2 linked regions of the Homo sapiens genome follow. The protein of the gene in region 1 interacts with the protein of each later gene in a pairwise test. Each region holds a gene or a part of one and is shown in the gene's direction. Other genes may lie near its edges. The genes, in order: RAI1 and ZNF496.

The links.
Region 2: the proteins of RAI1 (region 1) and ZNF496 interact in a two-hybrid assay, tested with the Homo sapiens proteins (one large-scale study listed by BioGRID and IntAct).

Annotation. Positions count from the first base shown.
Region 1 is NC_000017.11:17,796,415-17,800,224, forward strand, and holds part of RAI1 (retinoic acid-induced protein 1), read left to right. Parts: coding exon 1-2,099; intron 2,100-3,810. UniProt on the Homo sapiens protein: Transcriptional regulator of the circadian clock components: CLOCK, BMAL1, BMAL2, PER1/3, CRY1/2, NR1D1/2 and RORA/C. Positively regulates the transcriptional activity of CLOCK a core component of the circadian clock.
Region 2 is NC_000001.11:247,304,287-247,308,096, reverse strand, and holds part of ZNF496 (zinc finger protein 496), read left to right. Parts: intron 1-69; coding exon of another isoform or gene 70-224; exon of another isoform or gene 225-1,395; intron 1,396-3,810. UniProt on the Homo sapiens protein: DNA-binding transcription factor that can both act as an activator and a repressor.

The DNA of each region.
Region 1 (3,810 bases):
TCCACTCCAAGCGGCGGAGGCCCTCTGAGGGCCGGCTCCCCAACTGCCGTGCCACCAAGAAGCTCCTCGACAACAGCCACTTGCCCGCCACATTCAAGGTCTCCAGCAGCCCCCAGAAGGAGGGCAGGGTGAGCCAGCGGGCAAGGGTCCCCAAACCTGGTGCAGGCAGCAAGCTCTCTGACCGGCCCCTCCATGCGCTCAAAAGGAAGTCGGCCTTCATGGCGCCGGTCCCCACCAAGAAGCGGAACCTGGTCTTGCGGAGCCGCAGCAGCAGCAGCAGCAACGCCAGTGGCAATGGGGGAGATGGGAAGGAGGAGAGGCCTGAGGGTTCCCCCACCCTCTTCAAGAGGATGTCTTCTCCCAAGAAAGCCAAGCCCACCAAGGGCAATGGCGAGCCTGCCACAAAGCTCCCACCCCCGGAGACCCCCGATGCCTGCCTCAAGCTCGCCTCTCGGGCAGCCTTCCAGGGGGCCATGAAGACCAAGGTGCTGCCACCCCGGAAGGGCCGGGGCCTGAAGCTGGAAGCCATCGTGCAGAAGATCACCTCGCCCAGCCTCAAGAAGTTCGCATGTAAAGCGCCAGGGGCCTCTCCTGGTAATCCTCTGAGCCCATCCCTTTCCGACAAAGACCGTGGGCTCAAGGGTGCTGGGGGCAGCCCAGTGGGGGTGGAAGAAGGCCTGGTAAATGTGGGCACCGGGCAGAAGCTCCCAACTTCTGGGGCTGATCCGTTATGCAGAAATCCAACCAACAGATCCTTAAAAGGCAAACTCATGAACAGTAAGAAACTGTCTTCTACTGACTGTTTCAAAACCGAGGCCTTCACATCCCCGGAGGCCCTGCAGCCTGGGGGGACTGCCCTGGCGCCTAAGAAGAGGAGCCGGAAAGGCCGGGCAGGGGCCCATGGACTCTCCAAAGGCCCGCTGGAGAAGCGGCCCTATCTTGGCCCGGCTCTGCTCCTGACTCCCCGAGACAGGGCCAGTGGCACACAAGGGGCCAGTGAGGACAACTCTGGTGGAGGAGGCAAGAAGCCAAAGATGGAGGAGCTGGGCCTGGCCTCCCAGCCCCCGGAGGGCAGGCCCTGCCAGCCCCAGACAAGGGCACAGAAACAGCCAGGCCACACCAACTACAGCAGCTATTCCAAGCGGAAGCGCCTCACTCGGGGCCGGGCCAAGAACACCACCTCTTCACCCTGTAAGGGGCGTGCCAAGCGACGACGACAGCAGCAGGTGCTGCCCCTGGATCCCGCAGAGCCTGAAATCCGCCTCAAGTACATTTCCTCTTGCAAGCGGCTGAGGTCAGACAGCCGGACCCCCGCCTTCTCACCCTTCGTGCGGGTGGAGAAGCGAGACGCGTTCACCACCATATGCACTGTTGTCAACTCCCCTGGAGATGCGCCCAAGCCCCACAGGAAGCCTTCCTCCTCTGCCTCCTCTTCCTCATCCTCGTCCTCGTTCTCCTTGGATGCAGCCGGGGCCTCCCTGGCCACACTCCCTGGAGGCTCCATCCTGCAGCCGCGGCCCTCCTTGCCCCTCTCCTCCACGATGCACTTGGGGCCTGTGGTTTCCAAGGCCCTGAGTACCTCTTGCCTTGTTTGCTGCCTCTGCCAAAACCCGGCCAACTTCAAGGACCTTGGGGACCTCTGTGGGCCCTACTACCCTGAACACTGCCTCCCCAAAAAGAAGCCAAAACTCAAGGAGAAGGTGCGGCCAGAAGGCACCTGTGAGGAGGCCTCGCTGCCGCTTGAGAGAACACTCAAAGGTCCCGAGTGTGCAGCTGCCGCCACTGCCGGGAAGCCCCCCAGGCCTGACGGCCCAGCTGACCCGGCCAAGCAGGGCCCACTGCGCACCAGTGCCCGGGGCCTGTCCCGGAGGCTGCAGAGCTGCTACTGCTGTGATGGCCGGGAGGATGGGGGCGAGGAGGCAGCCCCAGCCGACAAGGGTCGCAAACATGAGTGCAGCAAGGAGGCTCCGGCAGAGCCCGGCGGGGAGGCCCAGGAGCACTGGGTGCATGAGGCCTGTGCCGTGTGGACCGGCGGCGTCTACCTGGTGGCCGGGAAGCTCTTTGGGCTGCAGGAGGCCATGAAGGTGGCCGTGGACATGGTAAGAGGCCAGCCCAGCCAGGGTGGGGAGTGTGGGGTTCCAAAGGACAGGCAGGCAGGCAGTCGGGGAGCCCCTTGTTTCTAGTGCTACAGTGTGGGCCAAATGTGTCTGCAGTCTCGGGACAATCTGCAGAGTCCTGAGCCTCTCTGGGGTGTGTGGGGGAAGTGGAGGCACCCATCTGGCTAAGGCAGGTCACACTCACCTACCCTGTCCCAGGAGACTTCCCGCCGGGGCCCGTATGCCCAGCCACCGCCACTCTCCCACTCACCTGGCATCTTCAGGCTCCAGCCCCACCCAGAATCCACTGGGCCCCTCCCCATGCTGTCACCGGAGATGCCAAGGCCCAGAGAACACGAGGACTCCCAAGATTGAACATCAGGGCTGCCCCGGGCGGTGCAAGAGCAAGTTGCCCACCCTCTGTTCCTGTCTCCATTGCCTCTGGGATGAAGCTAAGGGCTCAGGAAGACCCTCTCTGGCGACACAGGCTTGGTGCATGGACCCAGTCACAGGGTTCCTCCCTCTGCAGGACAGTCCATGGGGTCACACAGTCACAACAGGCAGGGCGGGGCAGATCCAGACCCTCTCACCATTGGCTCTGAGACCAGCTTTGGAAGCCATAGTCACTGAGCACCAACATGAGAGAGGGAACTCTGGGGCTGTGCCGCCATGCACCTTTGGGGCTGTGACCTGCCCTCTCTGTGCCTCCGTCCCCTCGCCCCTAACGTGGGTATGAGGGTGCCCATGGAGGAGGGGTCGGGAGGGTTAAAAGGTGGGCACCTCTGAGCCCACCGAGCACAGCAGCCCTGTGATAGTCAGTGCAGAGGGGCCTGGTGGCTCTGGTGACAGCAGGGTGACGTTCTTCGTGGTGTCACCACTTCCCCAGTACCATAGAGTACCTCTGTGCCCTTCTGAGGGAGGGGTCAGTGGGGGCGGTGGGGTGCACCTCTCCCCCGGGGCCATGCTTCTGCCCCCACATTCAACCCCGACTCCACTGCCTCATCCAGACTTCCGTGGAGTGACGCTCCCGGCTCTCAGCGCTGTGTGGTGGCTCTCAGTGGGGACGCCTGCAGCCTTCTCTGGCCCCTGCCCTGAGTCCCATCCCCTCCACTCCTTCCTTCAACCCACTATGTGCGGCTGAGGTCACAGGGGAGCCAGAGGGGCTTGGCAGGGGTCTCCAGAGGCCCTGGACAAACACTGCCTGCATCTGAGTGATTCAGTGACCCAGCACAGTGGCCCCAGCCGGTGGCTTCGCCCCTCCCCCTGCCCAGCCTCCTCCCCCGTCGCTGCACTGCCCACCTGCTCCTCGCAGTACACCCCTGCAGCCCCTCTGAGCAGCCCCTGCTCCTGACAGTTGCCGTGGCATTGCCTGGCCAAACCAAGGTCCCGGTGGGGGCCCACTGTGTTTGCCACCCACGCCTCCTAGTGTGTGTCTTGGGCACCTGCTTCCCACTGCCCATGGGGATGGCTGGAGACCTTCTCCACGCCCAGACGCCCTGCCCACCTCACTCCACCCTCCACCTCAGAGGAAGGCTGGCCCCGACAGGACTCCTGCAGGTTCCTGGTGCCGCGGGCCTTGCTTACCCAGCAGATGGTGGCCTTGGGCCTCTTCCCTCTCCCCTTCCCAGTTAGTGATTTTTTGCCTCTCTCCTGCTTTCTGTCTCTCTCTGTCTCTCTCTCTCTCTCTCTCTCTCTCTCTCTCTCTCTCTCTCTC
Region 2 (3,810 bases), on another chromosome or scaffold:
GAGGGTGTGTCAAAGCAGGGTGCTGCTGTAGTGCTGTTGGTGATGCAGTGAGTGTTTTTCTTCTCTCAGCATGGATGGCCAGCATCCTGGCACAGAATCTTGGAACTGGGATTAAAGAGCAGGTTTCTGGCATACTGAAGCTGCACAGGACTCTTGGAAAGTGTATGTTCCATTCCTGCTTTCAGAGAAATAGCCACAGTGTAGACTCTGAGTCGTCTTGGTAAAAGTCACCACTTCCAGAAGCAGAGGCTACAATACTGCCATCTTTCTCTTCTCAATACAAAACCCAAGCCTCTGATTCTTACCTGAACCCACGTGTCATTGTAGTTTTCTGCAGCTATGGAGACCAACTCACACATATTATCTCTTCTACCTGTGATGCTTTTGAAGGCAAGATTTATGCCATTTTGACCCAGCTCCATGCATCTTGTACTTGGCCCCCTTTCATGCATGGACAAAGGGGCTTTTCTAGTGTGGGAGATCTGAAAGGATGAGATCCTGCTCCACAAGCATGGATGCCCACCCCTGGTTTTCTAAGAAGCCCACCTCTGCGTGCCAAGAGTGATGCATTCATTTGGGGTCCACTTGGAGTTCAAGCGCAGGCCTGATGTTTGTGGTGCACTTTGAATCTTCTCTAGCTTCTTTCTGCCCATAGCATGTCTCTCAGCCCCATCAATATACTTTTAGAAGATGGATGGATGTTCATTTATACACAGGAGTTTTCAACTCCATTCTTCCCTTGCTGGACTCTGACACAGACTGCTCTGAAACAGCCAGAAGCCAAGGGTTGCTACTGAGAAAGGGGAGAGACGATATATTTCAAAGAGTGGGCACTGTACTTATTTTGGTAGCTCCTGCCAGCTTGCCTTCCTAAAAGGCTTTTCCCGCCAGCTGATGCCGGATAGCTGGTGATAAGGTCTGCTTCTCTATATCCATGCCCACGCAGGACACTCCCAGATGTTCAGTTTGTGCCAATCAAATAATGCTACTACATCCGCCACTGAGGTGGAATATCTTTTCTTGTTTATTGTGTTCTATGAATTGCCTAGTTAGTATTCATTTATCCTTATTTATTTATTTTTGCACTCATACTTGTTTTCTTTATGTCCTAAACATTGCACCAGGATTCAGTGATTTACATGATGACATGATTCTGTGCATTGTATCTTCATGGCACCTTCTGAGATAGGTGGCATGATGTCTCTGTATTGCAGCTGGGGCACCCGAGAGCTGAAGTCACTTGCCCAGAGTCCAGTGCTCACAAGCTGTAGGTGGTGGAGTGAAGATTTGAACTCAGGCTGGGCGCAGTGGTTCATGCCTGTAATCTCAGCACTTTGGGAGGCCGAGGCGGGCAGATCGCCTGAGGTTAGGAGTTCAAGACCAGCCTGGCCAACATGGCGAAACCTGTCTCTACTAAAAATACAAAAATTAGCCAGGCACAGTGGCAGACACCTGTAGTCTCAGCTACTGGGGAGGCTCAGGCAGGAGAATCGCTTGAACCTGGGAGGTCAAGGCTGCAGAAATCATGACACTGCACTCCAGTCTGGACAACAGAGCGAGAGTCTGTCTCCAAAAAAAAAAAGAAAAAGAAAAAAAAAACGGCCAGGTGCAGTGGCTCACGCCTGTAATCCCAGCACATTGAGAGGCTGAGGCAGGCAGATCGCTGAGGTCAGGAGTTCAAGACCAGCCTGGCCAATATGGCGAAACCCCATCTCCACTAAAAAATATAAAAATTAACCAGGCGTGGTGGTGGGCACCTATAATCCCAGCTGCTTGGGAGGCTGAGGCAGAGAGAATTGCTTGAACTCAGGAGGTAGAGGTTGCAGTGAGCCAAGATCACGCCACTGCGCTCCAGCCTGGGACACGGAGCAAGACTCCATCTTAAAAAAAAAAAAAAAGATTTGAACTCAGGCTGTCAGGCTTCAGACCCATGGCTTTTACTCTACATTACCAAACCACGGTTTGCTTTTTCTGTGGATTCATAGAAACTGCCATCTTTCATAGGTTCTTCTAAATACCAAATCCAAGTCTCTGATTCTTACCTGAACCCACGTGTCGTTGTAGTTTTGGGTCTGAATCCCTTGCCTCTGCTGTATTCATACATAGTTTCTTCCATTTCCCTCAACTTTGTTTATGTGTCTTGCAGCATATAAATGTTTTGTTTTGTTTTGTTTTGTTTTTTAAAGATGGGGTCTCTTTATGTTGCCTAGACTGGTCTTGAAGTCTTGGGCTCAAGCAGCCTTTCTGCTTTGGCTTCCCAAATAGCTGGGGAGACTACAGGCGTGTGCCATCATGCCTGGCTTAAATGTTTTCTTACAGTTTTTAACTGTAGGTACACTTATTCGTCATCTTTTTGGTTTTATGCCTTGCTTGAGAAAGCTTCCCCATTCTAACTTTACAAGAATATTTTACAGTTTTTAATAATGCCTTTATCATTTTGGTTTTTCACATCCAGCTTCCTAGTCTCCCCTGCTGTTCCCCTTAATCCCCTCAGCTCGCAGGAAGTCATTCATTCCTGGCCAGAGCATCCTTCCTGAGGCGATAGTCATGGAGTTACCTGCACGCTGCATGCCTTTGCCACTCCGCCTGCAACAAGCACTTGCAGCAGCCTGGCTGCCTGCTAGCTATGTGGCCACGAGCCCTGGTCCCATCTCCACTGGCTCAATTCCCCTGAAACCTTGGGCAATTTCACTTTTCTGCCTTACATTTTTTATTTGGAAAACAGAAATAATAGTTAAAGCTGCCTTGTACAGTTATTGCTAAGGATTAAATGGTTTAATGCATATACTGGCAGTTAGACCAATAGCTCTTTTCTTTTTTTTCAGACGGAGTCTAGCTCTGTCACCCAGGTTAGAGAACAGTGGCGCGATCTTGGCTTACTGCAACCTCTGCCTCCCGTGTTCCAGCAATTTTCCTGCCTCGGCCTCCCACCATATGTGGGAGCCCACCCACCCATATGTCGTCATGTTCACTTAATTACATCTTGAAAGAGCCTATCTTCAAATACAGTCACATTCTGAGGTCCTTAGGGTTAGGACTTCAACATGAAATTTTGGGACAACACAATTCATCCCCTGTAAGACCTCACCCTCAGGACCTTCAAAATTCATGTCTTTCCCACATGCACAATCCATTCACCTCATCCCAACAGCCCCCAAATTCTCAACCTGTTTCAGCATCAACTGTAAGTCCAAAATCTCATCTAAATATCAACATCTCAAATCAGGTATGGGTTAGACTTGAAGTATGATTCATCCTGAGGCAAAACCCTCTCCAGCTATGAACTGTGAAACCAGATGTTTTTTGCTTCCAAAATACAACTGTGAGAAAAGCATAGCATAGACCATTCTCATTCCAAAATAGAGAAATCCAAGAGAAGAAAGGGTAATGGGTCCCAAGCAAGTCTTAAATCTAGCAGGTCAGGGCTAGGTGTGGTGTGGCTCGTGCCTATAATCCCAGCACTTTGGGAGGCCGAGGCAGGCGGATCACCTGAGGTCAGTAGTTCGAGACTGCACTGGCAAAAATGGGGAAACCCTCTCTCTACTAAAAATACAAAAATTAGCCAGACGTGGTGGCACACACCTGTAATCCCAGCTACTCAGGAGGCTGAGGCAGGAGAATTGCTTGAACCCAGGAGGCAGAGGTTGCAGTGAGCCAAGATCATGCCATTGCACTCCAGCCTGGGCAGCAAGAGCGAAACCCCATCTCAAAAAAAAAAAAAAAAAATCTAGCAGGTCATTTCCATGGGATTTTAAGGCTCAGCAATAACCTCTGGCTCAGTTCTCTGTTCTCCAGGCCCAGCAGGCTACT